Linked DNA regions of Homo sapiens: region 1 is linked to region 2. The links come from fine-mapping of genetic effects on gene expression. A gene starts in region 2. The other region holds a variant in brackets. All regions are shown on one strand. Distances are between the middles of the regions. Region 1 overlaps AHRR (aryl hydrocarbon receptor repressor). Region 2 holds the start of SDHA (succinate dehydrogenase complex flavoprotein subunit A).

Evidence for each region. PIP is the estimated chance that this variant, and not a neighbour inherited with it, causes the effect. A credible set is the group of variants that fine-mapping cannot tell apart.
Region 1: its variant is the best candidate, but not a certain one, in a credible set for the expression of SDHA in subcutaneous fat (FUSION, PIP 0.81).

The regions. Positions count from the first base shown.
Region 1 is chr5:370,271-381,412 of GRCh38, forward strand. It overlaps AHRR (aryl hydrocarbon receptor repressor), which reads left to right. Exons shown (of 11, transcript NM_001377236.1): 4 at 6,340-6,446. PDCD6-AHRR (PDCD6-AHRR readthrough (NMD candidate)) reads left to right here. Exons shown (of 13, transcript NR_165163.2): 6 at 6,340-6,446. Among named protein-coding and RNA genes, the nearest start is that of AHRR, 54 kb to the left of the region's middle. RefSeq lists enhancers at 574-713, 1,594-1,653, 2,441-3,071 and silencers at 3,084-3,163, 3,444-3,903, 3,954-4,093. The variant G/A (reference allele first, on the strand shown) is at 5,700.
Region 2 is chr5:212,116-223,257 of GRCh38, forward strand. SDHA (succinate dehydrogenase complex flavoprotein subunit A) reads left to right here and starts at 6,205. Exons shown (of 15, transcript NM_004168.4): 1 at 6,205-6,303. The coding sequence starts at 6,241. It overlaps CCDC127 (coiled-coil domain containing 127), which reads right to left and starts at 6,038. Exons shown (of 3, transcript NM_145265.3): 1 at 5,978-6,038; 2 at 4,614-4,744. The coding sequence starts at 4,734. RefSeq lists silencers at 6,016-6,345, 6,576-6,815 and an enhancer at 6,215-7,023.

The DNA.
Region 1 (11,142 bases), 160 kb after region 2:
TCGCTGGAAGCTCTGCTCATTTACTCCCCGTGTTACGGTTGTGCAGCATTTCCTGGATCCACAGTCAGGTCAGGCAATTCTGGGGCGAGCAGGCGTCGGGGAAGGGTTGGATGGGCGTCCCAGGCTTCTCAGAGCATCCCATCCAACTCCTGGACGGGAGAGGTGTCGTAAGGGTCCCTCAGGAGGGAGCTTGAGCTGGAAGCAGGGGTGAGTGAAATCAGGTTCAAGGGAAATTTTCACCAAGGTCATCCGCCACCCCCAGGACCCTGAGAGTCTCACAGTGGGTGCAGCCCCAGGCAGGTGGTGGTCCATAGGGGACAGCCCCCAGGAAGATGCAGGTGACAGGGGTGGGGTGGACAGCCCATGGGAAGGTGTGGGTGATGGGGGGACAGTCCATGGGAAGGCACAGGTGATGGGGTTGGGGACAGGTCTCGGGAAGGCACAGGTGACAGTGTGGGGTGGAGGGGGGCAGCCCATGGGAAGGTGCAGGTGTTGGTGGGGGGAGGGGGGCACGTTCCCATCATGCTTGTCCGACCTCCCTGGGTGGCTGGAGGAGGAAGTGATCCAGAGGAGGCCTGCCTTGGAGGCACCCAGAGCACAGAGGCTGGGCCTGGTGTGGAGCTCTCGGCCGACCTCGGGCCGGGCTTTACAGGGCATGTCAGTTAGGGCTCTGCAGAAAAACAGAACCGACCGGAGACAGATATGGGGAGGCTTATTATGAGCAGGTGTCTCAGACAGCTGCAAGCTGGAGACCCAGGAGAGCCGAGGTGTAGTTCAGTCCAAGCCCAGAGGCCTGAGGGCCAGGGGCGCTGGGGTAAATTCCCGCCTGTGGCCGGAGAATGGGAGATGAGCTGATCTGGCTCAAGCCATGAGTCAGGAAAAAGGGGTGACTCCTCCTGTCTAGTTCTCTCCAGCCCCCCATGGACTGCCCAGCCACACTGGGGAAGACCACTGGCTTCACCGAGCCCACGGATTCAAATGGGACCGCCATCTGGAAACACCTCCCAACACAGCAGGCACGATGTTTAATCGCAGCACCCAGTGCTGCAGGTGGTTGATGTGTGACATCGGTCAGCACACTAGGCCTGTGTCCTCATTAGTTCGAGGGCCGGCTGTGACTGCCAACAGTAGCTTCCCATCTGAGTCAGGATTTCAGCCCAGCCCTGCTCTAGGCTTTCTGAGTGAGTCTCTGGGGCTCTGAAGTGATGAGCTTGCAGGTGACAGGAATCCTGCGTCCCATTCCCTGGGCAGGTGCAGCAGGGGCTGGCAGGCTGCCTCATGCACGGGTAAGCCCCTGTGTGTCCCATAGTAGGACTGAGCATCTGGGCCCACCTGTCCTAGACCCACCTGTCCTGGGCCCACCTGTCCTGGGCTGACCAGTCCTGGACTCACAAGGTGGCTCTGACTGTCCTTCCAGGCCTGTGGAACCGACTCCCGTGGTCGCTGTTGAAGCCCTCTATGGTGAAATGCTCCCAGGAGCTGCAGACTGCCAGACAGCTTTACTTAGGATGATTCCCTAGAGGGAGTCCTAAACCGAGTCAGCTTGGGGGCCGCCTGCTCCTCTCTCCCTTACGCCCCTGTCTGTGGAGTTCTGTCCCTTCCAACGAGGATGCTTAGGGTCGATGTGCCTGTTAAGGGCTGAGTGAAAACGATGGAGAAGAAAGGGATCCTGGGCCTTCCTCTCATCTGGCTGCTTGCACCACTCAGGCCCCGCCGAGGGCTCTGCAGAGAGGCAGGCAGTCCTGCCAATAGGGACCTTCATGAAGCACCCACATTCCTTACCACCTTCTCCCCTCACAGGAAGGAAGCAGCAGGGTTTCTGCTGGTTGAGCTCCTCCTCCAGGCTTCCTGGATAGGAAGCAGTGGTGCTGCTCAGCACACAGCCCCTCAGTGCCTTCCCTCCTCCCCCAGGGCTGGGGTGGGCTGGCGGGGCCACCCCTGCTGATCCATCCCTTGGCTTCTGGGCCCAGCTCCCCTGACTGCACAGAGGGGACTGTGGAGCTGTGGGCTGGGGCCTCATGGAGGCATGTCCTCCTTCCCAGCCAAGGTGCTGGGATCCTGACTGTCACCTGCCCCAAATCCAGCCTGGGCCCTGTGCACCCTGGGATGGGTCACAGGAGGCCTGAGAACCAGGTCCAGGCTGCGGTTTGGGTGAAGGACAAAGGGACGTCCTCTTCTGCTCGCTTTGCCTGTTCTGCTTCTTCTGTTTCTTCATCTCGCCTTCTTTTCAGCTCCCCCTGGGCCCAGCTCCCTGTCCAGCACTGAAGACCTGAAATGGACCTTACTCAGCCCTGCACAGAGCAGGAAACTTCAGCCGCAGTCGCTGCACAGGGCTGGGGTGCGTGATCTCCAGTGGCAGGGGTGCGTGATCTCCAATGGCAGGGCTGACCTCCCACCCTCCGTCTGCACCGCCTCCCCCGCCCCTACCAGGGAATTGGCTTCAGGGGACTGGGAGCAATGTGGCTTCGTTTCTGGGCATCACGGCATCACCCAGACGCACAGCTGGACCTGCCTTCTGGCTCCTCCTCCACCAGGGACTGTGGGTCAGACCGAGTCACAGGCCCAGGTGCTCGTGGTGGGGGCCAGATGGGGTGGCCTTGGGTTCCCGGTGACACCTTGCTCTGAGTCTCCTCTGTGTGAAGAAACAGAGGGCCCTTAGCAGGACCCCATGGGAAGCCTGAGCCCCCAAGGGAGCCACTCTGCTCCAGCCCTTGCTGTGGGCACAGGGTCGCCCGAGGCCTTGGTGCTGACTTCACATTCTCGCTGTTCCAAATGAGCCCCTTCTTGGTTGCAGTGAACTCTGCAGCCGTGGGCGGACGGCTGGTAATGGCCCTGAGACTCTCCAAGGTGGCTGAGGTTCTGCGCGGTTGGCAGAGTGCTGGCAGGACACAGGGGTTGCCCAGGCTACAGATCCGGGTTCAGGCCCAGCCGTGGGGACTGTTCACCTCTGAGAGGGCAGCCCTGCCCCGCGGCCCTGGCCCTGCCCTGCACCCGGCTGGGTCTCATCTGACACGCAGCCTTCCAGCCTCTCATTGCCCGAGGGGTGGGCCCTGGGAGTGGTCCTGGCAGGGCCCCTCTCTGCAGACCCTGCGGGACCAGCAGGCCGGGCGGTGGCTGGGAGGCAGGGGACAGGTTGGCCTCTGCGGTCTTGGAGGCACAGAGCTCCTCCCGCCCTGGGCCTGTGGCCCCCTCCTGCTGGCCCAGCTGTGCCTTGTAAGGGCCACGGTGATGGCCCACCTTTCTCACCAATGCCCAGGAAGGACACCGCGCTCCCAGCTCCCTTCCTCCCCATCCACTCACCATGGGCAACTGCGGTGGCTGGGCGGAGGGGGGGTCTCTCTCCACATCACAGAGGAGGAGACTGGGGCTGGAGAGGTGGGGGATGGGGGCTCCCTCCCGGGGCGGACCCTCAGGTGGGACCCCCAGGCTCAGGGAGGGCGGGGGGACCTGGGGAGGCCGTGGCCGGGTCCGCCCGCCCCGTGTGCACCCGGAGCGCCCGCGCGGACCCCGAGCCCCATTCCCCGCCACGCGCCTGGCGCTCCCCGCGCTCCTGGGGCTCCTGGCGCCCTGCCCGGGCGGGCGGGGGCGGGAGCGCTGCTCGCACGCGAGGCCTGGCTGGCCCCATCGCGTGACGGCGCCGGCGGCTGCGGGGGAAGTAGGGGGGAAGTGGGCGGGCGCCCGCGGGGGGCACGCGATGCCGGGAGGGGCGCGCCCCTGCCGCCGCACCTACGCGCTTCTCGGGGAAAAGGCCGGGGCTGCCGGGTCCGCGGGGCGCATTGCGGGTGGGACGGGGTCGGCTCCGCTGCGGGAGCGACCCCTGCAATGGGGCTTGGCTGCACCGGCCGCCTGGGTGGTCGGTCTGTGTGCGGGTGACCCAGGCGTGTGCCCCCACCCGCGCTGCCCCAGCCCGCGGACCTCGGCGGGGAGCGCCCAGGGCCAGCACGGGGGTCTCACGGGGCGACCCCAGCAGCGTCTGTGTGGGGCCGCTCCTGCCCGGGTCTCTCCTCGGGCTCGGGGTCAGCTGCTGGGACACCCGGGGCGCCTCTTGCCCTGGCTTCTCCTGGGTCTGCACTTGGGAGAAAGATCTTGATTTTCACTGTTAAAAACCTTCAGCTTTCTGAACACGCGTATTGTGTGAACTGTGGCGTCTCTGGCTGAGCCTGGAGGGCAGGAGGCTAGGATGCTGGGGTTTCCAGGTGGGAAGAGGCCGCCCTTGCCCAAGGGATGCCCCCACCTCGGTGGACTGTTCATGCTTCCTCGGAATAGTCCTGCTTTGTGGCAGAAGAAATGGGGCAGTTTTTGTTACATTTAGTGCAGTGAACAAACATCCAGTTTTTACCAGCTATGGGAGTTGAGGGAGAAATGAGGGCTCAGAGACCAGGGAGGGAGGGGAACAGAGAGGCCGAGTCCCAAGGCCACCCGGTGCCACCGTCTCCGGGCTTCTGGCTGCCTCACCTCCTCACTCGGGCCCTCGCCCCCCACGGACACCTTAGCTCGTCAGCATCCCTGCAGCTGGTACCTCAGATTCTGAATCAATGGCTCCCAGTATGGCCTTTCTGGTGGAGGGTGGGGTGCTAGCCCAGTCCAGCAGCCGGTTCCGGGGTCCTGGCCTGATGGGGAGCAGGTTAACCCAGCGTCCGGACCCCACCTGTGCTCACCACGGCCTGGGGACACCACAGACGCTGGTCCTGTGGGTCTGGGGGCTGCCGGCCCAGGGACTGTGGGGTGAGGAGAGCTCAGAGCAAAGTGTGAACCACTTTGACTAGCAGGTGGATGCCTTCCTGGAAGTCCAGGAGGATTCCTGGGAGCAGGAGCCAGTGACCCACAATGAGGTTCAGGCCACACACATTTCAGAGCACTCTCAGGTGACAGACACAGTGCCCCTGGGGCTGGAGACTGGGAGTCCAGCCCACCCTGAGTGAGACATTATGCTTTTATTCAAGTGGTTATTCTAGTTCTTAAAATATCCAGCAGCCTCACATCATTTTGGGACTGTGATGGGCTACAAATAGACACGTGCGCTTTTCGATGAGGCGGTGCCCCTCAAACTTGATTTTCTGTCTGGGTCGGGCTCTTGCTGAGCAGTGGGGTGGAGGCAGCCAGGAGTCTAAGCTCGGCCCAGTGGGGAGTGAGGGTGGTGGGGGGCTGCTTTGGAAAGGGCTGTGTCTCCCTAACCCGCGGAAGTGGGCAGATCCGGTGAAGCATGGCCGCCTGGGCTGTGCCACGCCGGGACCCCGGCACAGGCTGCCCACCGTGAAGGACGGTGTGCTGGCCTTAAGGTGCCATGCGTGATGACAGTTTTTATGCCATCTCAAGGTCAGAACTGGTGGCAAGGTAGCATCTGCCTGAGCGGACACCACCTGTGACTTCAGCTGAGGATCCGGGAGACGCGGGAGCAGCAGATGCCCCCCCGGCCTTGCTGGGGTGCGCTTTGGTCCACGCACTGGGGCCAGCTGCTTGCTGGGACACCCTTGCCCCTCAGTCCTCTCAGAAGCTGGGGAGGGGTGTCCCTCCCATGTCTCCAGTGCCCATGAGGACACTGAGTGGGCAGTGAGCACCTGTGCTGGGTCCGGAACTCAGCCCTTGGTCAGTCTGGAAGGTGAACGTGTCATCTGTCCCCTTCTGCACCCAAAAATGGAGAATGCACCATCCTCAGGAGTGGGAGTGTCCTTGGGGGCTGTGCGCAGTCACTGGGAAGG[G/A]GGTAGCACTGGCGACTGTCCTGGACCTGCCTTTTCCTGCCCTGCGGTGTTCTGTGCGGCCCCTGGGGGCGTGGGGCCTGGCCTGCTTCTCACTAGGGAGGGGGCTGCGTGGGTTCCAGGAGGGAGAGGCGATGCGGGTGTGCAGGGCACAGAAGACCCAGGTGGACGCAGGGGACCTTGGCCCAGCCCTCAAAGGGGTGCAGCCCAACAGTGCCGTGGGTCTCAGGGGAGGGGCCGTAGGGACCTCCTGGGTGGCTTCAGGGGGATCTGGCAGGAAGCCAGACTTTGTCCCAAGACTGGGTGGGGGCCCTGGGGGGTTGGGCAGGAGGGGACAGAGAGCAGTTTCTGCAGAGCAGAGCGGGTGTGGGGGCGTCCTCAGGCCAGGCTCTGCCTCCATGTCCTGGTGTCCCCCTGCCTCTCCTGGCTGATCTGAGGCCTGTGTCTCAGCTCCTCCTGCCCCACCTTGGACTCTCAGGGCTGTGGAATGCTGCGTGGCCTGCAGAGGGGTCAGTGCAGCCCAGGCCAGATGTCAGGTGAGAACCGTGGGGTGAACGCGGGGAAACACAGGAAAGATGTGAATGAAGAAGAGTGGCCAGGCCAAGGGTTGGGGGTGCCTAATGTGTCTTTTCTTCTCTGACAGTCGTGCAGGAGCAGAGCTCACGGCAGCCTGCGGCCGGCGCCCCCTCGCCCGGAGACAGCTGTCCTCTTGCAGGGTCTGCCGTGCTGGAGGGAAGGCTGCTGTTGGAGGTGAGTGCCACCCTTGGTACCTCGAACACTTGACACTTGGTTCTCCGTGTCACGCGTGTTCAGGCTCAGTCATACTCCGTGTCACGCATGTTCAGGCCCTCACCCAGGAGGCCCTTAGGTTGTGAGGTTTATAACTGTCAGGAAGCGTAGGCTCCAAAATCTGTTGAAGAAGGGTGTCCCTGGGTCGGGGTCAGCCTTGGGTGTGAGCCTCGTAGGCTGGGACAGAGAAGGCAGCCCGAGAGCTCTCGGCCTTGTGTGCTACATCAGGAAATCATCCTCATTCTGCACCGTCTGCTTTTGCTTGTCGGTGAGAGAACCTTGTACAAAATTAAGCCTTTTTTCCCCCAAAATGAAGGATTTGGCAAAGTCTACACTGGGCTTCCCTGGTGTGGTTTCAATCTTGGGGTGGCCTGTGTGACACCCTGGAAGCTGTGGGCCTGGGCAGGAAGCTCTGTGGTGAGGGGGCTTTTCACCCCATCTCCCCCATCCCTGCGACTCTGAAGTGCTGAGTTGTCCTGTGCTGTAACGCGGGGCCTGTTACCCCTCTGGGAGAGGAGACTGTGGACCATTTTCCTAAACAAGATAAGATGGTGGCATGGAGCCTCCGGGGTGAATCCATTCGCCATTTTGAAGATGAAGGGGGTTGCTGCCTCCACCAGTGGCTGGAGAGACATGGGCCCTGGGTGGTCCCAGGATGGGGTTGAGTGGGCTTGCAGGGAGGAGGCGGGGACAACATGACATTTCCTGGGTAACAGGGTGGGCTCCAGCCGGAACTCAGGACCCCTGGGTGGGGCAGGAGGGCACCAGCCAACCCGCTCCAGATGAGAGGGTACTGGGGCCCTGGTGGCAGGCTGCCCCACAGCCAGCAGCCACTAGTCTCCCATGGAGCTGTGCACCCCCAGTGCCTGGGAGGGGCTGCTCAACCCCCTGCCCCAGATCCTCCTGTGTGTCTCCAGGTCAGTTCACAACCCCCAGCTCGCTCTACTCTGTCCCCGCTAGTGAATGGGTCCCAGCTCCTGGGGCCTGGGAAGCCTGGAGCCTGCGGGAGGGAGGCCTGGGCCTGGTTCCCTGCTGCTGGACTTCCCACCCTGCTCCCAGCAGCGTGGGATATTTTGGAGCTACCTTCAGGGGGACTCTCCAAGAAGACTTTGGAAGAGGCATGGAGGCTGGGGGTCAGGGTCCGCCCGTCTGCTCCTGACACTGTGGCCCTCCTGCTGCCTGGCCTGACTCCCCTACCTGGCCAGAGTGCTGGTCACACCCACTCTGTTCTGGGGGAGGTTGAGCAGTTCCCGAAGTCTCAGTCCACTGCATCTGGTTCATGTCCTCTGGCCCACGGAAATTTCTGGAAGTTTGCTTAGATTGCATCTGGTAGGTTGTATGGTGAGGGTTCCTCACTGATTGCCAGGGCAGTGAAAGGGGTTATATGCTCTTTTTGAAGCTTAAAAATATTCCAACAGGGCAAAATAAGCAAAGCAAGCAACAACAGCAGCAAATCCCAGCTTTTATTTCTAATCTTCAATCTCTTCACAATAAACTGAAAAAAAGGGGAGGTTTATGGCAGGGCACCCTAAATCCATAAACCGCCTTGAGCCGGCACAGGCTTCAGAGTGCTGTGGCCATGGTCTGTTGATTTAAGGTGAGGAAGTAAGGCTTGGAGCCACCAGGTGCCCTTTGGGGCTGAGCTGGACCCAGCGCTTCTGTTTATTTATTTATTTAAGATGCTCCACACGTTCAGAGAGGCTTTAGTAATGATCTAGAAATGACCCCTGAGAGTGTAGTCTGGACCTGGTGTTTCTTTGTCCTGAGTTCACTGGCTTGTCCTCCAAGCCTCCGGCCTTCCCCAGGGAAGCCAAGACAGATGGGCCACAGCCCGTGGCTTCCCCTGGTGCACATCTTGGTGCAGGTGCTAAGAGTGGGAGGATGGAGGAGTGGGGAGAGGTGGGAGACTGGAGAGGGAAACAAGGAGGAGGGCTCCAAAGACATGTGAGCACACAGAGGAGGCCCTGAGCTCCCTGCACAATACGAGTCAGAGCTTCTAGGTTTTCATTCTGTCTTTTAGGTGGGCTACAGGGCTGTTGGGTTTAGCATGACTCACTGGAGCCACGGATGTGGCCTGTCTCGGGCTAGGATGCTGTCTCACTGACTGCTTAAGTTCAGCTAGAATTCAAGTGTATGGTTACTGCAGGATACATTTTCTAACACTTATTTAAAAATTTACATACACTAAAGTTCATTCTTTTCGGCATTCAGTGGGATGTGACTGCCACCGTCATGAAGATTCAGAGCCATCCCCTCCCCAAACATTTCTCCTCTGCTGCTGTTTGCAGTCACAGCCCCCTGCCCCCAGCCACGGCCGATGTGTGCTCTATCCCTGCAGCCTGTCCCTTGCCTTTCTCTGGATGTCTTCCACACGGAGTCACACGCATGGCCTTTGGAGGCCAGCTTCAGTCAGCACAGTGCTGTTGAGATTTGCTCACGGTGCTGCGGGTCACCAGCTGGTTTCTTGTTGTTGCTGCCGGTTAGGATTTGGGCTCATCCACGGTGCTGCGGGCCGCTGGTTTGTTTCTTGTTATTGATGAGGTATGGACCAACCCCATGTGTCATTCAACTGTTGAGGGATATTTGGGTTGTTTTTAGGTTTTGGTGTTTATGAATGGAGCTGCAGTCAATAGACGTTCACATACAGGTGTTTCTATGAGCGTAGGTCTTCGTTTCATGAATAGTAAGCGTGTTTTTAACTCTTATCCCCCAGCAGTGAATGAGTGTTTCAGTTGCTCAGCATCTTTGGGTTTGCACTTGGTATTACTTTTTTCAAAGCCATTTTAATACTGGAATCTTGTTAGGGTTTTAGTTTGGATTTCCCTGTGACTAACAATGCTGCATATCTTTTCATGTGGTTATTTGCATCCGTGTGTCATCTTTGGTGAATGGTCTTTCAGATCTTTTGTGCATTAAGAAAACCAGCTCATTTGCTTGTTTACTATTCAGTTTAGAGATCTCTTTATATATTCTGGAAACATGTCCTTTCTCATATGTATGATTTATAAATATTTTCTCGTAGTCTGTGGCTTGTCTTTTTATTCTTTTGACAGGATATTACAGATAGTGAAAGTATTCCATTTTGATTAAGTTTAATTTATCAATTTCTCTTTTTGTAGATTGATTTTGTTGCCACATCTCATTACCTAACCTAAGGTTACAAAGATTTTTCTTTTATGCTTTCTTCTAAAGTTGTATAGTTTCATATGTTACATTCTGGTCTATGATCCACTTTTTGTTAACTTTGGTATGAGATGTGTGAGGTAGGGGTCAAGATTTATTGTTTTTGCATGTGACTATCCAGATGTCTCAGCACCATGTATTAGAAAGACTATCTTTTTATACTGAATGGCGTTTATACCTTTGTGAAAAATCAATTGGCTGTATTTTTGTGGATCTGTTTCTGGACTCTGTATTCTGTTCTATATATCTGTATTTTTAACCTTTTAACAATACCACATTATCTTACCTACTATAGCTTTAAAATAAGACTTGATATCAAATAATGTGAATCTTTCAATTTTATTCTTCCTCAGAATTGTTCTGGCTATTCTAGTTCTTTTTTTTCCATATAAATTTTAGAATTAGCTTATTGACCGATATCTACAAAAATCCCTGCTGGGATTTTGATTGAGATTGTGACATATCAGTAAATCAATTTGGGGAGCATTGGCATTTGAACAATACTGACTCTCCCAATCCATGAACATGGTATGTGTCTCTATTTAGGTTTTCTTTAATTATGTTCATCGGTGTTTTGTAGTTTTCAGCATACATATCCTGCATATTTATGTTAGATTCATGTTTAAGTTTTATATTTTTGTTCTTAATGTAAATGAGACTTTTTTAATTTCAATTTTTAGTTCATTCCTAGTATATAGAAGTACAATTTATTTTTCTAGGTTGACTTTGTATCCTATGACCTTGCTAAACTCATTAGTAGTCATGGGAGCTTTTTAAAATAGATTCCATGGGATTTTTTAAAACATAGATTTTATTAGTCAGGAGTCTCCAGAGATACAAAACCAATAGGTTATATGTGAGGAGCCTTATTAGAGGAATTGGCTTACATGATCACAGAGACAGACAAGTTTCACAATAGGCTGTCTGCAAGCTGGAGAACCAGAGAAGCTGGTAGTGTGGCTCAGTCCAAGTCTGGAAGCCCCAGAACTAGAGAAGCTGATGATGCAGCTCCTAGCTCAAGGCCAAAGGCCTGAGAGCCCCCAGGAGGCCACTGGTGCAAGTCCTGGAGTCTAAGAGCTGAGGAACCTGGATTCTGATGTCCAAGGGCAAGAGGAGAAAAAGGCATCATTCCCTGGAAGGGAGAGAAAGAGAGAACAGAAAGCAAATTCTCCTCTTCTTGTGCCTGTTTTTCCCAGCTGGGCCTCCAGCCAGTGGAACTGACCCACATTAAGGCTGATTCTTCCTCTCTCAGTCCACCGAATCACATGCCAATCTCCTCTGGAAACACTCTCAGAAACAATTCTCCACCAGCTGTCTAGGCATCTCTCAATCCAATCCAATCGACACTTGAAATGAACCATCACATAGATTATAATTGTTGTCTGAGAATAGAGTTGGTTTTATATTTACTTTTTCAATCTATGTGCCTCATTTTCCTTCCTTATTGCACTTCTAGGATGTCCAGTACAGTATA
Region 2 (11,142 bases):
AGCCACGATGAGACAGCACCACACACCCATCAGGATGGGGCAGACGGGACAGCAGTGTGAGCACGCTGATGCTCGACATCACACACTGCAGCCACGATGAGACAGCACCACACACCCATCACGATGGGGCAGACGGGACAGCAGTGTGAGCACGCTGATGCTCGACATCGAATACTGCAGCCACGATGAGACAGCACCACACACCCATCACGATGGGGCAGACGGGACAGCAATGTGAGCACGCTGATGCTCGACATCGCACACTGCAGCCATGACGAGACAGCACCACACACCCATCATGATGGGGCAGACTGGACAGCAATGTGAGCACGCTGAGATGCTCGACATTGCACACTGCAGCCACGATGAGACAGCACCACACACCCATCAGGATGGGGCAGACGGGACAGCAATGTGAGCACGCTGAGATGCTCGACATTGCACACTGCAGCCACGACGAGACAGCACCACACACCCATCAGGATGGGGCAGACGGGACAGCAGTGTGAGCACGCTGATGCTTGACATCGCACACTGCAGCCACGATGAGACAGCACCACACACCCATCAGGATGGGGCAGACGGGACAGCAGTGTGAGCACGCTGATGCTCGACATCGCACACTGCAGCCACGATGAGACAGCACCACACACCCATCAGGATGGGGCAGACGGGACAGCAATGTGAGCATGCTGAGATGCTCGACATTGCACACTGCAGCCACGATGAGACAGCACCACACACCCATCAGGATGGGGCAGACGGGACAGCAATGTGAGCACGCTGAGATGCTCGACATTGCACACTGCAGCCACGACGAGACAGCACCACACACCCATCAGGATGGGGCAGACGGGACAGCAGTGTGAGCACGCTGATGCTTGACATCGCACACTGCAGCCACGATGAGACAGCACCACACACCCATCAGGATGGGGCAGACGGGACAGCAGTGTGAGCACGCTGATGCTCGACATCGCACACTGCAGCCACGATGAGACAGCACCACACACCCATCACGATGGGGCAGACGGGACAGCAGTGTGAGCACACTGATGCTCGACATCGAATACTGCAGCCACGACGAGACAGCACCACACACCCATCAGGATGGGGCAGACGGGACAGCAGTGTGAGCACACTGATGCTCGACATCGCACACTGCAGCCACGACGAGACAGCACCACACACCCATCACGATGGGGCAGACGGGACAGCAGTGTGAGCACGCTGATGCTCGACATCGCACACTGCAGCCATGACGAGACAGCACCACACACCCATCATGATGGGGCAGACTGGACAGCAGTGTGAGCACACTGATGCTTGACATCGCACACTGCAGCCACGACGAGACAGCACCACACACCCATCAGGATGGGGCAGACGGGACAGCAGTGTGAGCACGCTGATGCTCGACATCGCACACTGCAGCCACGACGAGACAGCACCACACACCCATCAGGATGGGGCAGACGGGACAGCAGTGTGAGCACGCTGATGCTCGACATTGCACGCTGCAGCCACGATGAGACAGCACCACACACCCATCAGGATGGGGCAGACGGGACAGCAGTGAAACACCAAATACTGACCAGGTGGAGAAACCGATCAGCTCTGCATTGCTGGTGAGAACCTAAAACGGTGCAGCAACTCGGGAAACATTTCAGCCCTTCTTAAAAAACTAAACGTGCAACCTCCATAAAACCCAGTAATTTCACTTCTGGCCCTTTATCCGAGAGAAATGAAAACTTACATCGACACAAAAACCTACACAAGAATGTTTATAAGAGCTTTATTCATAACAGCTGAAAACTGGAAAGGACCCAGATGTCTTTCAGTGGTTAAACACACTGTGGTACGTCCATGTCATAAAACACGACTCAGCAATGAAACTATCTATGAACTACTGATACAGCAACAATCTGCATGGACCTCAGGGGGTTATGCTGAATGAAAAAAGTCAACCCGAAAGGTTATATACTGTTTGATTCCATTTACATAACATTCTTGAAATGACAAAGTTCTGGAGATGAAGAACAGATCAGTAGCTGCCGGGGGCTATGGAGGGAGGGGCGGTACACAGGGCAGCACGTGAGGCCCCAGGGATTGGGGTATCTTGACCGCATCCTGGCAGATGTCTTGGCTGTGACACTGCACTATCGTTTTGCAGATGCTTCCACTGGGGAAAGCTGGGTAGAGGGTACACGGGCTCTCTGCATTACTGATGACAACTGCATGTGATTTACATGACCCCAAAATAAAATATTTAATTAAAAGAAACTGAGTTGGGCCCAGTGAACTCAACCAGTCCCTTTCAGCTCTAAAACTATGTTTTCTGGGTCAGGGGAGGAAACAGGAGGTACAGGAACACTAGAGGGGAGAAAGCACGGAGAGATGGGAAAAGCACGGAGAGAGAGATGGGGAAAGGGCAATCAAGAAGACTGAGAGAAAAGGGGGGAAGCAGAATGACAGAGGAGGTGTGAAGAGAGAGAAGCCCTCTGGAGTGCTGAAATACTGAATATTCTCCCCTGGGAGCTACTCAGGGTAAGAATTTCTCCAGGGACTGCTCTTTCGGGCAAGCACAATTACACACATTTCTATGTTATGTTAAGTAAAAATCTAGTAAATGGGCTGGGCACGGTGGCTCACACCTGTAACCCCAGCACTTTGGGAGGCCGAGGCGGGCAGATCATGAGGTCAGGAGATCGAGACCATCCTGGCCAATGTGGTGAAACCCCGTCTCTACTAAAAATACAAAAATTAGCTGGACGTGGTGAGGGGCGCCTGTAATCCCAGCTACTCGGGAGGCTGAGGCAGGAGAATCACTAGAACCAGGGAGTCAGAGGTTGCAGCAAGCCGAGATCGCGCCACTGCACTCCAGCCTGGCGACAGGGCAAGACTCCGTCTCGAAAAAAAAAAAAAATTCTAGTAAATGAAGCGAGTGATCAGGACAAAACTAGCCTCTCATCAATAAATCAACCAATAGCGCTTATCAAGTATTCATATGTCTGCCTCTTCTTCTAGACTACACTAGGGGCTGGTTAACGCTCCTATGTGCAACAGAACCTCAAACACATCGTAACACACCTTTGGAGAATCCTTACAAGAACACCAACTTAACAGTTCTCTCTGACCACACTACCTCAGCAAAAAACCAGGAAGAAAAAAATATTCTTCAACCCTTTTCAGGGACAGAAAGCATCATTTCAAAAGTCCAAGAAGGGAAGGTAAGAATTTCAAAAGTGAAAGTTATCATGAAAGGCTATAAAAGCTGGAGATGAGTCTGAAAAACAAATGGAAAATGAGTCACTTCAGGGCCTCTCCCAGCCTCAAAGCCAATTAATTATTACATTAGTCAGAGTAATTTTAAGCCTTCCAATCCACTCACCCTAGCCACAGGCAACAGTAGCCTCTCCAAGTGTTAAGGGTTTTTTTTCCCAAGCCTGCAGGCGGATGAGCTTTTTACATGGCAGCCCCTTAGGATTGGATGTGGACCTGCCCTGTCTTTCACCAAGAAGCAAGCACTGCGCAGATCACTGAATCATAAAAACCACCTGCTCTTACCAGCCTCCTCTTCCTCTACAGCAAAACTTCTGACCTGAGACATGGAAGCAGATAAAAAGCCACTACACAAAATGTATCGCTACAACTAGAGGGCAGTTTTGCCTTTCTTCCATTCAATTATTCAGTTTCTCATGTTCCTAAGTGCCAGCCCAGAACCATGGAATGTGAAGAAACACAAAACTCACTCCTCTGCATCAGTGAATTGATTGTGTGGTGGGGATGTAAGTCTGCATATGACCGGCAGGTCCCCAAAGTGGTGCCAAGTCAATCTAAACTAGAGAGAATTTTTCTGGCCAGGCCAAGCAGAGATTTCATGGATGAAGTCTCCCAAAGACTGATTTCCTAAACATTAAACATCACTGGTTTTCCAAAACTGGTTTTCTTTTTTTTTTTTTTTAACCCTGTTGCTCGGGCTGGAGGGCAAGTGGTGCCATCTCCACTCACTGCAGCCTCGACCTCCCAGGCTCCACTGATCTTCCCACCTCAGCCTCCTGAGTAGCTGGGACTACAGGTGTGCACCGTCACGACTTGCTAATTTTTGTATTTTTTTGTAGAGACGGGGTTTTGCTGTGTTGCTCAGGCTGGTCACTCGATCTGCCCACCTGGGCCTCGCAGAGTGCTGGGGTTACAGGTATGAGCCACCACGCCCAGCCCACTGGTTTCCTTTACACCCGTTTTGTTCCCCAGCAGTCCTTATGAGGGCACCTGAAATAAGGAACCTCCTCCCCGACTTGAGAGCAGCAAAGCCTTCAGAGGGAACTAAGTTATTAAAACCCACCCCACACAAAATGCTTCTAAACGCCTTGGCTGACTTAATCCTTGCAGTGTGCTGAGGTTAAGTATGATTATCCATCTCCTGTGAACAGGAAGACTGAGGCTCAGAGCTTAAGTGATTTGCCCACGGTTCACTGCAGGGGATAAAACTCGGCTGTCCCTGGCAGGTCCCAAAGTCACGGCCTTCAGGCTCCCACACCATGCTGCCTCCCTCACCGGGGCTCCACACTCTCAGCCTGGAAAACACGAATTTTAAGAAAACCATGACTTACGAAAAGCAGCCAATCCCAGCATTGGAACCAACAGGGCATAATTCCACCTGCTTCCATCACCACCATCCGCCCTGGAATTAGGCCGGATATTCCAATTTGGGGGATCATTTAGGTTATTCATGGAGATATACCTTGAAGTAAAGAATAAAAACGTTAACTACTTTTATTCAAGAAATTTTTCTTCAGTTTTAACTATGTGCTTGCTGCACAGCACTGAGGCCCTACGGGATTCAAAGAAGAAAAAAACTAGACCAGAGCCGGGCATGGTGGCGGGCACCTGTAGTCCCAGCTACTCGGGAGGCTGAGGCAGGAGAATCGCTTGAACCTGGGAGGTGGAGGTTGCAGTGAGTCGAGGTCGCGCCACTGCACTCCAGCCTGGTGACAGAACGAGACTCCGTCCCCCCCAAAAAAAAAGAAAAAGAAAAAGGAAAAAAAAAACAAGAACTTAAGATGAAAGCGACTCACAATCTGGTTGGGGAAAGTGGAGAAAACAGACATGTCTTAAGCATCTGAAGTGCAGGTAGAATCAGGTAAGTTCTCTGGTACAAATATGTTTAAATGTATGGCTGCTGCGATGGTTAATTTTGTTTGTCAACTTGACGGCATCATGAGGTGCTCAGATACATGGTTAAGCATTATTTCTGGGCGTGTCTGTAAGGGTGTTTTTGGATGAGATTAGCAATTGAACCTTTAAACCAATTCCTCACGTCTCCCTTCTATTTGTTGTGTCTCTGGAGAACCCTCATACAGTTGTATCAAAGATACAGAATCAACTCGATAAAAGTGGGCTCACACCGGACACTTTCATATGAGCTAGGGTTTGAAGAGTGAGCAGCATTTTGACAGGCAGAGAAAGAAGGAAAGGGTCTTCTGATCAGAAGGAAGACTGTGAGGAAGGCAGGGAGGGGTGATGTGGGGAAGGTGCAAACAGTGCTAGAAGCTTCTGAGGCCTCCTCGTGGTGGTGATGAATGCAGAGATTACAGAGTTCTCTGCTTCGGGCTCAGCATGCACCCTCCATAGCTAGGCTGGGGGCTAACGTTAGTAAGAATTTACTGATTTACTGAGTACCTACACGAAGTTTCACATTTTCACAAAGTAGAGTCACTTTAAGTTTGTTTACATGTGACCTCCACAAACACACACAATTACAAAATAGTTTAGTTAATCAAGGGATGTATAATAAACAAGAGGTCGGAGGCCCCGGGCCGCTCCCGCCCACCTCCGCGGACGAGCGCCCCCCTCCGACCCCATTCCCTGCGGTCTGGGCGTTCAGGCCCTTCGGTCTGGGCGATCCCGGAGAACCACCCACGGGGCTTTAAAAATGTTGGTGCCCACCACCTCCCCGGAACAGGGCCCGCTCTACCTCGGTCGGGGAGCGCGGGACCTCAGCGTTCCCTTAACGCCACCGTCCGCGGGTCCGCTTTGCGCAGGCGCGGCGCCCCCACTCAGTACCCGCTCCGGGCGTGGCATGGTGCGCAGGCGCGATGTCCCCCACTGCAGCCCCGCTCGACTCCGGCGTGGTGCGCAGGCGCGGTATCCCCCCTCCCCCGCCAGCTCGACCCCGGTGTGGTGCGCAGGCGCAGTCTGCGCAGGGACTGGCGGGACTGCGCGGCGGCAACAGCAGACATGTCGGGGGTCCGGGGCCTGTCGCGGCTGCTGAGCGCTCGGCGCCTGGCGCTGGCCAAGGCGGTGAGTCCGTGCCGCGGACCGGGGCGGGGCAGGCGGGGGCCGAGGCGGCGGTAGGAGCGGGACGGTCCCCAGCGGGTCCGAGCGGAGCGGGCGCCGGGTCCCTGCGCCCTCTGTCCCGGGATCGGGAAGGGGCTGAGAGAGCCCTGGGCCGGTGCGAGGGGAAGCCGCGGGGCGGACTCGGGGACCCGGGGAGCTCGGTCCTTAGTAGATAGTCCGCGTCCGGGTGAAGGTCACAACCCCGCGGGCTTGCTGGGCGTCCCCTCCGCCGCCTTGGTCCGGGCCTGGGGTCCTGGGACCCCGCGGGCTGAGGTAGCCCCTCGCCTCAGTGCCTGGCAGGTGGACTCGGGGAGGAGTCGTGTCTGCCCAAGGTCACCCGGGCGGATAGCGGCCGGTGGCCGCCCTGGCTGGGCTGGGCCTCTGCCGCCCTCTGTGCGGGTTGTCCTGAGGAGCAGCCCGCAGCCCGTGGGTGGGGCCGGCGGGGCGGGTGAGACCGCCCGGGTGGGTGCGAGGAGTGGCCGGGCTCGGCCCGGTGGGCGTCCGGTGGGAAGCGTGGCGCGCCCGAGCTTAGGCTTGCAGTTCGCCTTTCCAGAAAGCGCAAATCTGTCCATGTCCACTTCGAGACCTTGTAAGTTAAGGGCTTCTACTTTGGGTCGTGTTTGGTGGTCCTTATGCCACCAAAAATGTGCCAGTGTTTAAAAGCAGCTGTGCCAGTTTTTAAAACTCAGGCGGAGAGCTCAGCGCACTGACCGGGCGAGGACGCCGGGACCTGTGCTTGCCTGTGCGCTGAGTGCCTCTAGGGCCGGGCTCGGCTTAGTCCAGGATGGTGGTCAGGGTTATACTTCCCTGAGCCCTTGCTCTCTGAGTGTCTGAATGTGCCCTCTACGATTGCATCTTAAGAATCGGCCTTCTAGGGTTTTATTTAATCAAGCTAAATTGGATAGGTTTAGTTGTTTGGTTCTTTTAAATGAACTTACCCACCCACCTCCTTAATTACAAAGTAATTTTAAATTGCAGAATAAAAATCTCAATAGGAACCAAGGCATTCAGCAATATTGATTTGAATTATGCCTGTAATTGTGCAATTTTCTCCTTTTTGAAATACTTATTAAAAATCTCGTTGAGTTAAATGTGAGGATTAGTCATACAGCCATCCTGCCAACATCAGAAAGCGTGTAAACCGTTCTAGTGTGTTGCTGTGGTTGGTACTGACTGAGCAGAGACCCCTGCCGCATCTTGGGCTTTTAAGAGCTGCTAGGAGGGCGTCCACAAGCAGGAAGGAAAGCCCATGGTCAGTGGGGCTTTTTAGGGGAAATGGTAGCTTGTGATTGGAGAAAAGCTAGAGCTAGTGCCTTTGTCCTCAACCCAGATGGTGCCCGGTGTTCCTTCTGCAGACTAAGACCCTGCCAGCGGCGGAGGCACCTCAGACGGGATGGCAAGATAGCAAAATTGAACCAAAATTTAGTCTTGGGTTTTGTAAAAGTCTTTTTATCTTGATGAAGTTAGCTTTTCCTACAGAAATTCTGCCTGCAAGCAGCATATTTATCGGCATTTCAGATAGGCTTTTTTTCCTGAAGAATTGGAGTTTACGAAGGAACAGCATAATCAAAAAATTAGCAGAAAAAAGAAAGAAATTCGTGATAGCCAACTGAGAAATGTGTTTGGAAAATAGATGCTGAGGATAATTTCAGTAAAGTCCAGAGAGAATTTTTTAACCTCATTTTGGCCAGTTCTGTGGTGTTTTGATCATTCTGTATTTACAACTGCTTTCAAGTGACGAACTTATCAGACTTATTTTGCTTTTGGTTTCTTTTTATGGCCCAGTGCACTGACACAGCTTGCAAACTGTTCGAAAGCAGTTTAATCAGAGGAAAAAGAAAACCAAGAAACTTCAATAGTTACTGGTTAACTGCTTACTTCAGGTGAAGTTTTTCAAATCCCTTAACATGAACATCCAATATATTGTTCTAGGACAAATTGATTTCTTTTCTTTGAATGGATTGTTCTGAATATGTTTAATGGTGTTCTAGAAATACATTATTTAGGCCATTATAGTAGTAAACCTTTGCTTTGCTTCTTGGGATAATTGTAACAACAATGGCATTCCATTCTGCATTCCTCATGATGTTTTTCCTGATTTATTTGAAAAATTGTGACTTGTTTTTTGATATGAAACCTGGATATTAATATTAGTTGGGAGTCTCAGAGATTTTTCCCAAGGGTCTTTAGATAGGGGGGCAAGTCCAGGATCCAGAGCCAGGCCGGCCGACTTGAATCCTCTCTGAGCTCCGTCTTTCCGTGGGGTTAGTGAGGATTCTGTGGGTAATGTTTGAAACCTTTGGTGATGCTCTTGAGAACCAGGGCTCACAGCCTATGCACAGTAACCATGTGTGAACTGAATTTTTTTTTTTTTTTGAGACAGAGTCTCACTCTGTCACCCAGGCTGGAGTGCAGTGGCGCAATCTCGGCTCACTGCAAGCTCTGCCTCCCGAGTTCACGCCATTCTCCTGCCTCAGCCTCCTGAGTAGCTGGGACTACAGGCACCTGCCATCATGCCCGGCTAATTTTTTTGTGTTTTTAGTAGAGACGGGGTTTCACCATGTTAGCCAGAATGGTCTCCATCTCCTGACCTCGTGATCCGCCCGCCTCGGTCTCCCAAAGGGCTGGGATTACAGGTGTGAGCCACCACGCCCGGCCGAACTGTATTTTAAGTATCCCTGTTTTTAAAATAATAAACACTAAAATTCTAGTGAGAATAATTACACGCAGTTGTAAAAGAATCAATGAGTATACCCTCCCTCACCCAGTTCATTTTCCATGAAAGCAATTCCTGTTTCTGATACTGACTCCTGGCATTTGTAATACCTCTGTTTCTTTAGCGGATATGCAGGTGCATTTTTATCAGTTTTAGACTTCTTGCCTAGAGAGGGGATTTAGTTCACTTAAACTACCCTGCTTCCGCTTCTTCCTGATACAGTCGTGCGTTTTTAGGTTCTTCGTTGGCTGCTTTTGTGATTGTGTAGGTTGTACATGCAGATTAGTTTCTTGCTCGTGATTTATAGGTGCGTTGTATTAGATGAGGACCCCTTACTTTGCTAGATTTCGGATATGAATGTCTCTGCACTTCTTACTTTTCCCCTCCACCTCCTAATTCAGTCATCTGAAATTCTGTATTGTTAAGCAAGGTCTAAGTATTCCTTTTAGTTATATGTTCCCCATTTTTTTTCTTGAGGAAATGTTTGATAGTTTCTCCTAAAAAAATTAACAATTGGCACAAAAGACTAGTTTTGTGTCAAAACTAGTTTTGAGTTTTATCTAAAGACTGAAATTGGCTTAAAGTTGGGCTTTCCAAATTCAAAAATCTGCCCCAGATTAGATTTAGATTGAGAGGGTTAGTGTCCTTTTCGCCAGGGGGATGGCGTGATAATTTGTTCAAGATTGTGTTATAGTAGCTGCCCCTTTTAAGCCAGCTCTGTGTGTGTGTGGTGGGGGGTGGGCAGTGGGTCTTCCACATCAACATCCTAGAAAGAACGAATAAACATTGAGTGATCTCACTGTTTCTACTTACATTTGGTATAATATACTGTTCTTACTGGTGCTATTACTATGTTAATAGGGCACTTTACAACATTTTCAAGAACATTTGTATTAAAATTATTTCAAAGACTTCTTTCTTAAAATATGATTTTACCATGCAAAAATTTTACTAAGGTAGAAGAATATTTGTTCTTTCTCATTCATTTTCTGAAAAAAGAAAAAAGCTGAATTAGCTTATACCAATAAAAACAGAGACTAGAAATTGGAGAAATGAAGAATAATTTTTTATCCCACATAATAAGTAATTTCTGAATTGCAAGTATTTCTAAATACTTGAAGACATTCCTCACATCCCCTCTTCTGATTGCATTTATTTCCTAAAGCTTTTTTTTCTTTTCTTTTTTTTTTTTTTGGAGACGTTGTCTCTCTCTGTTGCCGAGGCCGGAGTGCAGTGGCACAGTCTAGGCTCACTGCAGCCTCTGCCTTCTGGGTTCAAGCGATTCTCCTGCCTCAGCCTCCCAAGTAGCTGGGATTACAGGTGCCCGCCACGACGCCCAGCTAATTGTTAGTAGAGATGGGGTTTTGCCATGTTGGCCAGACTGGTCTTGAACTCCTGACTTCAGGTGATCCACCCACCTTGGCCTCCCCAAATGCTGGGATTACAGGCATGAGCCACCGTGCCCAGCCCCTAAAACTATTCTTGATGATATTTCTGAGACTATTCAGTGGTCTTCTCAAATGTAGCCAGCAGAATGGAAAACGTATCCCCTAAATGGCTGGCCAACCTTAGCATATGGACAGTGTCACCTCTCTCACACAGAGCCACTAAAAACTAAACACCAAAACCAGTTTTCTTGGGTAAAGTTTTCTAAGATGGAAAATTTAAGCAGCAAGATGTGTCAAGTTGTAGATGTTGGCCAGGAAAAAGCCAGCAGCAGCCAGGCAGGGGAGAGTGTGCATCCGACATCCTCCTGTGTGATGAAGGGATGACACCTCGTCCCTCTAGGCTGTCAGCTTTTACTGTTCCAGGATACAGATCTCCTGATTCAATGTTGAGTGCCTTTTGAACTGACCACAAGCCCTCCTGGACGATTGGAACTGTAATGTGGAAAGGGCTATGATGGAGCCAGTTAAAATGCTTCATTACTTGCAAAATACCACATACAGTAATACAATATACACGTCTTTCCCCTTCTCCACTAAGTAGCATACATTAAGACTTCACAGAGGAAGTGTGCCTTTTTCATTTCGTATCTGAGTCAGTGAGTATCCTGTTTGGAAACAAGCTTCATCCTGGTTTTCTAG